Regions from separate parts of the Homo sapiens genome. Here regions 1 and 3 are each linked to region 2. The links come from fine-mapping of genetic effects on gene expression. A gene starts in region 2. Each other region holds a variant in brackets. All regions are shown on one strand. Distances are from middle to middle.

The links. PIP is the estimated chance that this variant, and not a neighbour inherited with it, causes the effect. A credible set is the group of variants that fine-mapping cannot tell apart.
Region 1: its variant is the best candidate, but not a certain one, in a credible set for the expression of DENND5B in whole blood (TOPMed, PIP 0.73).
Region 3: its variant is the best candidate, but not a certain one, in a credible set for the expression of DENND5B in whole blood (INTERVAL, PIP 0.62).

Annotation. Positions count from the first base shown.
Region 1 is chr12:31,473,829-31,476,588 of GRCh38, forward strand. The region is part of intron 3 of DENND5B (DENN domain containing 5B); the gene reads right to left. Among named protein-coding and RNA genes, the nearest start is that of LINC02387, 110 kb to the left of the region's middle. The variant T/C (reference allele first, on the strand shown) is at 1,311.
Region 2 is chr12:31,589,969-31,592,695 of GRCh38, forward strand. It overlaps DENND5B (DENN domain containing 5B), which reads right to left and starts at 1,168. Exons shown (of 21, transcript NM_144973.4): 1 at 738-1,168. The coding sequence starts at 864. DENND5B-AS1 (DENND5B antisense RNA 1) reads left to right here. Exons shown (of 3, transcript NR_046909.1): 1 at 1-151. RefSeq lists silencers at 199-538, 689-958, 1,029-1,318 and an enhancer at 1,749-1,978.
Region 3 is chr12:31,646,485-31,649,244 of GRCh38, forward strand. All of the region lies in intron 1 of LOC124902913 (a long non-coding RNA gene), which reads right to left. It also overlaps a transcript of ETFBKMT not described here. Among named protein-coding and RNA genes, the nearest start is that of ETFBKMT, 12 kb to the right of the region's middle. The variant A/C (reference allele first, on the strand shown) is at 1,376.

The sequences.
Region 1 (2,760 bases), 120 kb before region 2:
GATCTTGTTACCAGAGGAATGCAAGGAAGAGATTCTCACATATAGGGAGCCTCTTTTTCCCTTGGACTGACTTTGGAACTGTAGGAGAACCTTCTGCATTTAATTGTCACTTGGACAATGCCCTATAAATACCTCTCAGTTGACCAGCAAAGTACTGTTTGGTTTATGGATGGCAGTTCCAAGGAGAACTATGATGTCCACTTGAGCATGCCTAGCAATTTGTGATGAGAAAGCTCCCAACTTTTTCAAGAAAACTTTAAGTAGCTTCCACCTTCTGACAAGGTTAATTCACATACAACTCAAAGAGGAATGAAACGAACAGAGGGATGGCAGACAAGCACTGCAAAGGCACACAGGCATGCAGTGTGGTGTGGGTAGTGGTTTATTTCCACTATGAAGAACCAAAGGAGGTAAGCAAGGCCCAAAAATGTTTCTTAGACTTCAATTATTGGTATCAAAAGTTAGACAATGGTGTTTAAATTCCCCTTTTATTCTTCCACTAGTTCTTTGAAAAAAGAATCATACTCTGATTTTCATACTGTGCTGCTCCAGGTATTTCCCAGTTGCAGAACAAAGTGCCCATTTCTGATCTGGGGTCCTAGAAAAGAGCCTTCACATCCTGGGTACATTTTCTCTACTTAGAATTTCTAGCTAGTTACCACTGCAAAGTGACAGTGATATATGCATTTCCTAAATAACAGATTGAATTGGTTTAAATGGGCTGTGGATCAGAATTTCAAATCAGTCTAGAAGGACATTTTCATCACTGAAATCCACCTACTTTGATTCACTTTGGGTTTTCATGGTAACTCTTCAGCACACGCAATGTTTTTAAATTTATGGCATAGCTTTATCAGTGAGTAAGAAATGAAGTATCACATGTTATTAAAACCCCCTTAACACAGTTAAGAAGAGTAAAGGAGGGCACCCAAGTACAAATCAACATAAGGACACCTATTTCATTCATTTAACTGAAATATTTTTCTCTAATAGAAGAGACATTGTCAATATTAAAATCTAGATTTACACAGCGCTTTCATTTTATACTCTACAATTACTTCGCATGACACCTTTACAATAGACCCACAGAATGAGTTAATCATTTAAAAATAAATATTGAGACAGATAAGGAGAGGTTAAGTGCAGTGCCCAATACAGTTAACACAGTGGTTAAGCATCTGAAAAAAGACTGATGAAACCCAATTCTTAGTAGTACTACATTACTTACTAGCTGTATCATCTTGGGCAGATTACTTAGTTTCCCCAAGCCTCAATCTCCTCCTCAACAAAAAATGCACAACAGCACTAAC[T/C]CACTGCTGTTGAGAGGATTAAATGTAGGGAAAAGATCCAAAATATACAATGCCTTTTTGTAGCACAATTCCTAACATAGAGTGATTTTAGTGAATGGTTATAAATTTACTGTATGGCAATTTTTTGGGGTATGTCACTTTAAATTTTTTAAAAATCTAGCTCTATAATCTCAGGATTCACTCTGTTGTTCTCGGCATACAGATTACAAAAAAATAGAGTATAAAACCATATCCATAAATGCTTATTCTTCTTCATTTGAAACTGAAATAAATTGGTAGATATTAATGAGCTAAAACTCCTGAACAGACTCCACAAACCAAACAGGACAAGCTAAGCAGTGGCTCACACCTGTAAACCCTACACTTTGGGAAGCTGAGGCAGGACGATCGCTTGAGCCCAGGAGTTTCAAACCAGCCTGGGCAGTGTAGTGAGACTTCATCTCCACTAAAAATAAAAAACATTAGTCAGGTATGGTAATGCATGCCTGTAGTCCCAGCTACTCAGGAGGCTGAGGGGTGAAGGTTGCTTGAGCCCTGGAGTTTGAGGTTGCAGTGAGCTACGATCATGTCACTGCATTCCAGCCTGGGCACCAGAGTGACACCCTGTCTCAAAACAAACAAACAAAAAAAGAGCAGAAATAGGAGAGCTCAGGACAGACCACAAACGGTGAGACATAACCTGCTACTTAAAAGAGGAGGTGTGGGCCGGGTGCGGTGGCTTACACCTGTAATCCCAGCACTTTGGGAGGCCAAGGCAGGCAGATCACCTAGGGTCAGGAGTTCGAGACCAGCCTAGCCAGCATGGCAAAACCTCATCTCTACTAAAAATACAAAGAAATTAGCCAGGCATGGTGGTGCGCGCCTGTAGTCCCAGGGACTTGGGAGGCTGAGGCACGAGAATCGCTTGAACCCAGGAGGTGGAGGTTGCAATATGCTGAGATTGCGCCACTGCACTCCAGCCTGGGTGACAGAGCAAGACTCCGTCTCAATAAAAAAAAATAAAAATAAAAAATAAAAGAGGAAGTGTGATAATGGAAGCTTTTGGAGTTTTTTTTTGCCTTCTAAAAAAAGCATGGTATACAATATAAAAGAACATTTATTAGGTTCTCAACTCTGGAATAAACTCTTGACTGTATCATTTAAAAAGGTTTTATGTTAAATGTAGTAATATGTTGAACCTTCACAACTTAGAGATAAGTGTAATTTATAGAAGATTATATGGGACTAATAAAACTAGTAATTATTATAATAGCATCAGCTATCATTTAGTCAGTGTCAATTATACCCTAAGTATTTTATACACGTTTTCTTATTTAATTGTCATAATAGATCAGTGAGAAAGGAGAAAAAAAAAAAACCCAAACTATTATCCCTATAGAGATGTGGCAACTGTCACACAGGAGGATTACCTAACTCGCCCATGGGTATAGTTAATAAATGACAGAGTAGA
Region 2 (2,727 bases):
GGGAAAACCAGGCACTAACACACGGTGCACCCAACTGAATTTAAACTCGGGAACAGTGTAGGCAGTGTCAACAAAGCGCGGTGCTGGGTCCCGAGCGTCCAAAGGTCCCTGCCAGCTCCCAGACGCGGCCAAATCCACAGGATTCCAAAAGGTGACTTGGCCGGCACCGCAGAGCGGCAGGCGGCGCAGAGGGCAGAGTCCGACCGGTCCCCGCCCCGCGCTCGCTCCGCACGGCCACCGGCTCCTCCGCGGACGCTACCCCGGCGGGAGCCGAGCTGAGTCCGACTCCCCGTCTCCCGAAGAGGCCCGAAAGCCGCGTCACGTGCGGGGCCGAAACTTCGCGGCCGGGGCCGGGTGGCTGGCGGGTGGGAGGCAGGCACGGCGGTCGGGGGGCAGCCCGCGCGCCCGGTGACTCACCGGCCGCCTCCGAGTGCGGCTGCAAGCGAAGGGGCCGGCGCGCCAGGCGGGGTCCGTGCCCTTGGGGCCACCCCCGCGCCTGTTATTAATAACCCAGCGCCTGGAGGCGAAAGCCCCGGTGGGCGCAGCCGCAAAGCCCGCACGCGGAATAAATAACAATGTCATTAAATCGCGCCCGAGCGCCAGTTCGGCCAGAAAGCGGCGGGAGGGCGCCACCGGGAGCTGACTTTGTCTGGAGCCTGCACCCCGCCTCCCGCGCGTCCCCACAGCGTCCCCCGCGCCCCTGAGGGGGCTCAGCGCCGCCGCAGCCCTGGCCTTACCCGCCAGCTCGTCAGGCTCCAGCCCGCTGTCCGCGTCGATCCCGCACAGCACGAAGTAGTGCGCGAAGCGGCAGGCGGCCGGGGAGGAGCCCGAGCCCGGGCCGGGCGCCGCGCAGCTCCCGCTCATCCCGGCCGCGCTGCTCCAGGGGCCGCCGCCGCCGCCGCCCGGGAAGGCTTTCTGCGGAGGCTGCCACCACCGCTCCGGCTGTGGTCTGTGCGCCCGCCCTAGGGCGACACTGGCGCGCCCATGGCCGCGCAGCCGCCTCTCGCCGCCGCAGCCTGCCTCCTCGCTCGGCGCGGGGGAAGCGGCCGCGGGCTCGCGCGCGGCGGGTCCGGAGCCCGGCCGGGTGGGGGAGGGGCGCGGGGGGAGTGTCGGCCTGAGAGGCCCTCGCAGCCGCAGCTGCGCTCGCGAGCTGAGAGCCGCCGCGTCTGGCGCCCGCGGGTCAGCTGAGCGGCGCTCGGGCTGTGGGAGCGCGGGGCGGGCGGGGGCGCCGGGGCTCGGCGCGTGCGACGGAGAGGGGTGGGGGGCGCGCTCGCGAGGGACGGAGGCGCGCGCTTCTACCGTGCGCGCGCGCCTAGCGGGTTCGGAGGCCAAGCCTGGCGTGGGGCCGCATTCGTGCCCACTGGCCCCGGCTGCGGCATCGAGGGCGACCCTGCACACACCCCTCCTCGCCCTGGCCAGCCGATAAGAGGGCTAGCCTCAGTGTGGGGGTCTGTCTTCTAAAGGGGTTGTCACCCATCCTTATTTCTTTTAATGCAGCTTTGGGGAAGGTGAACAGCCGCTCTGAGATCATTTCGCATAACGGTCTGAACCATCGTCTTTTAAACTGTGACCTGTGTGGGGGTGCCTGTCTCACTTTAAGGTCCTCCCTTCCCCCAGCCGTCACCCCATTTACAGGCCATCCTTAGTGACTTAGTGACAAGTCAACCGTGAGGGGGAAAAAACACAACTCAATACCCACAAAGCGTTGAGACTTCTAGAAGGAGTGCAGTCACCAACCCCCGCCTTCTGTCATTTATCCTGACATTTTCCAGGTCAGTGTAAATAGCCAAGGCGCTCCAGTTCCGCAGCCCTGTACCCATCCGATGTTATCGGCTCTCCCCGCAAGTAACAATCGGAGGCTAAAGCAACAGGAATTAGACCATGAACTCTGCTCCTCCCAAAGGCACGGCTTTCTTGCCCTGCTCAGCTGTCTTTTGCCTTCTCGGAAGGAACTCGACAACCAGTTCTTTTTCCTTTGAAAGAAAACTGGCTGGGCTCAGTGGCTCACACCTGTAATTTACTCAACACTTTGGGAAGCCCAGGTAGGAAGATCACATGAGACCAGGAGTTCAAGACCAGCCTGGGCAATAGAGGGAGACTCTGTCTCCATCTAAGTAAAAAAATAACATTTATTTATTTAAAAAATAATTTTTTAAGAGACAGGGTCTCACTGTATTGACCAGGCTGCTCTCAAACTCCTGGGTTCAAGTGATCCTCCCGCCTTGGCCCCCAAATGTGCTAGGATTACAGGCATAATAAGCCACTGTGCCCGGCCATGTAAGTAAAAATAAAACTTAAAAGATAGAAAACTGAATGCAATTCATCTCCACATGGCAACCCCTTCCACACCACTCCCTGCTTTCTTCTTTGGGGATTTGGGGCATCTACCACTAGACATACAAGCAAACCTTCCAGAGAGGTTGCCTGAGAGAACCTCGATTATTTGACTGAATAATGTTCTTCCTAGAAGATACATGTGCGTGCATACCATCATTTAATGTAGCTTGTATCTTCACTTTCTTTCTTCAATTTTGAAATGAAAGAGGCTGGCCATGGTGGCTCAGGCCTGTAATCCCAGCACTTTGAGAGGCCAAGGCAGGAGGAGCATTTGAGTCCAGGAATTCAAGACCAACCTGGGCAAAATAGTGAGAGACCCTGTCTCTATAAAAATAAAATGAGGCCGGGTGCAGTGGCTCAAGCCTGTAATCCCAGTCCTTTCGGAGGCCA
Region 3 (2,760 bases), 57 kb after region 2:
ATTTTTAGTAGAGATGGGGTTTCACCATGTTGGCCAGGCTGGTCTTGACCTCCTGATGTCACGTGGTCTGCCCACCCTGTCCTCCCAAAGTGCTGGGATTACAGGCGTGAGCCACTTCGCCCAGCCTTTTTTTGTTTCGTTTTGTTTCTTAGAGACAGCATCTTGCTCTGTCCTTCAAGCTAAAGTGCAGTGGCTTGAACATGGCTACTGCAGCATCAACCTCCTGGGCTCAGGTGATCCTCCTGCCTCAGCCTCCTGAGTAGCTGGGATGACAGGTGTGCACCACCATGCTCAGCTAGTTCTTACAATTTTTGTAGAGACCAGGTTTCATTATGTTGCCCAGGCTGGAATTTTCGTATTTTTTGTCACAAAGCCTCGCTATGTTGCCCAGGCTGGTTTCAAACTCCTGGCTTCAAACAGTCCTCACACCTTAGCCTCCCTAAGGATCTTGTGCTGAGATTACAGGCATGATCCTCCATCTTTTTATATTGTGTAATTATAATGCAGAGTAGTTTGAGCTTGGTGATGAGAAAGCTTTCTTTTCGCCTTCCTGCCACTCATTGTTTGTATACTTTATTTTCAAAGGCCATTAACATGTCGACAGCCACTGAGCTGCTGTTTTTGTTTTATTGTTCCCTTGACCACACACCAACCAACCATGACTCCCAATTAATATTCTTAATGGAATCCAAGCCTCTAAGCCTCACAGTCCAGGCCCTCCACCAGCCTGCCTCACCCTATCCTCATTTCATCTCCCGCAACCTGGCTCCGGTGAGTGCTCTTCGTAGTCAGACTGGGCTGTTTATTTTCTGCAATGAACTTGTAAATCCCTGCCTTTGGCTCGTGCTTGAAATAGCTTCCTCTTTCTCATTACCGAGTCTACGTCCTGTGTTTAAGTGCAGCTCTGGAACCAGACGACATGTGTGTCATCCCAACTCTACTGCCAGCTATTTATGAGCCCTCAGGCAAGTTACTGAACCTTCCTGTGACTTCACTTCTTTACCTCTAAAACAGAGGTCATAATAGTATACCTACATCCTATGCTTATTTTGAAGCTTAAAGAGGTAATTTAGGGGCTGGGCGCGTGTAATCCCAGCACTTTGTGGGACTGAGGCGGGTGGATCACCTGAGGTCAGGAGTTCGAGATCAGCCTGGCCAACATGGCAAAACCCCGTCTCTACTAAAAATACAAAAATTAGCCAGGTGTGGTGGCAGGTGCCTGTAATCCCAGCTACTCGGGAAGCTGGGACAGGAGAATCACGTGAACCCGGGAGGCGAAGGTTGCAGTGAGCCAAGATCACGCCACTGCACTCCAGCCTTGGTGACAGAGGGAGACTCCATCTCAAAACAAAACCAAAGAAAACAAACAAACAAA[A/C]AAAAAACAAGTGTTGATAAGAATGTGGAGAAATTGGAACCTTCATAAATTGCTGGTGAGAATGTAAAATTGTGCAGTCACTTTGGAAGACAGTCTGGCAATTCCTAAATAATTTGAGCATAGAGTTACTATATCACCCAGCACTTCCATTCCTAGGTATATACCCAAGTGAATTGAAAGCATATGTCTCCACATAAATGTGTACATTAATGTTTATAGTGGCATTATTCATAATAGCCAGAAAGTGGAAACCACCTTAATGTTTATCACAGATGAATGGAGAAACACAATATAGTACTGAATATTCACATAATGGAATATTATTTAGCCACAAAAGGAATGTAGTACAATTGTCCTTCAGTATCCACAGGGGATTCGTTTCAGGACCCCTGAGGATATCAAAATCCATGGATGCTTGAGTTCCTTATATAAAATGATGTAGTATTTGCATAATTACTTTAAATCATCTGTAGATTATAATGTTGAATATGATGTAAATAGTTTTTTTTTTTTTTTTTTTGAGATGGAGTCTCGCTCTTTTGCCCAGGCTGGAGTGCAATGGCACCATCTCAGTTGACTGCAACCTCCGCCTCCCAGGTTCAAGCGATTCTCCTGCCTCAGCCTCCTGAGTAGCCGGGATTATAGGCATGGACCACCATGCCCAGCTAATTTTTATATTTTTAGTAGAGATGGGTTTCTTTTTTTTTTTTTTTTTTTTTTTTGAGACGGAGTCTCGCTGTCTCCCAGGCTGGAGTTCAGTGGCGCAATCTCGGCTCACTGCAAGCTCTGCCTCCCGGGTTCTAGCCATTCTCCTGCCTCAGCCTCCCAGGTAGCTGGGGCTACAGGGGCCCACCACCACGCCTGGCTAAGTTTTTGTATTTTTAGTAGAGACAGGGTTTCACCATGTTAGCCAGGATGGTCTCGATCTCCTGACCTTGTGATCTGCCCACCTTGGCCTCCCAAAGTGCTGGGATTACAGGCGTGAGCCACCGCGCCCAGCCCTGTGACGGGGTTTCACCATGTTGGTCAGGCTGGTCCTGAACTCCTGACCTTGTGATCCGCCTGCCTCAGCCTCCCAAAGTGCTGGGATTACAGGCATGAGCCACCACGCCCGACCAATAGTTGTATTTTTTTTGGAGACGGAGTCTCGCTTTGTCACCTAGGCTGGAGTGCAGTGGCGTGCAATTGGCTCATGCCAACCTCTGCCTCAGCCTCCCAAGTAGCTGGGATTACAGGCGCCCACCACCATGCCGGGCTAATGTTTTGTATTTTAGTAGAGACGGGGTTTCACCGTGTTGCCCAGGCTGGAGATAGTTGTTATATTTTTAGGAAATAATGACAAGAAAAAAAAGTCTATACATGCTGTTCAGTACAGATACAAATTT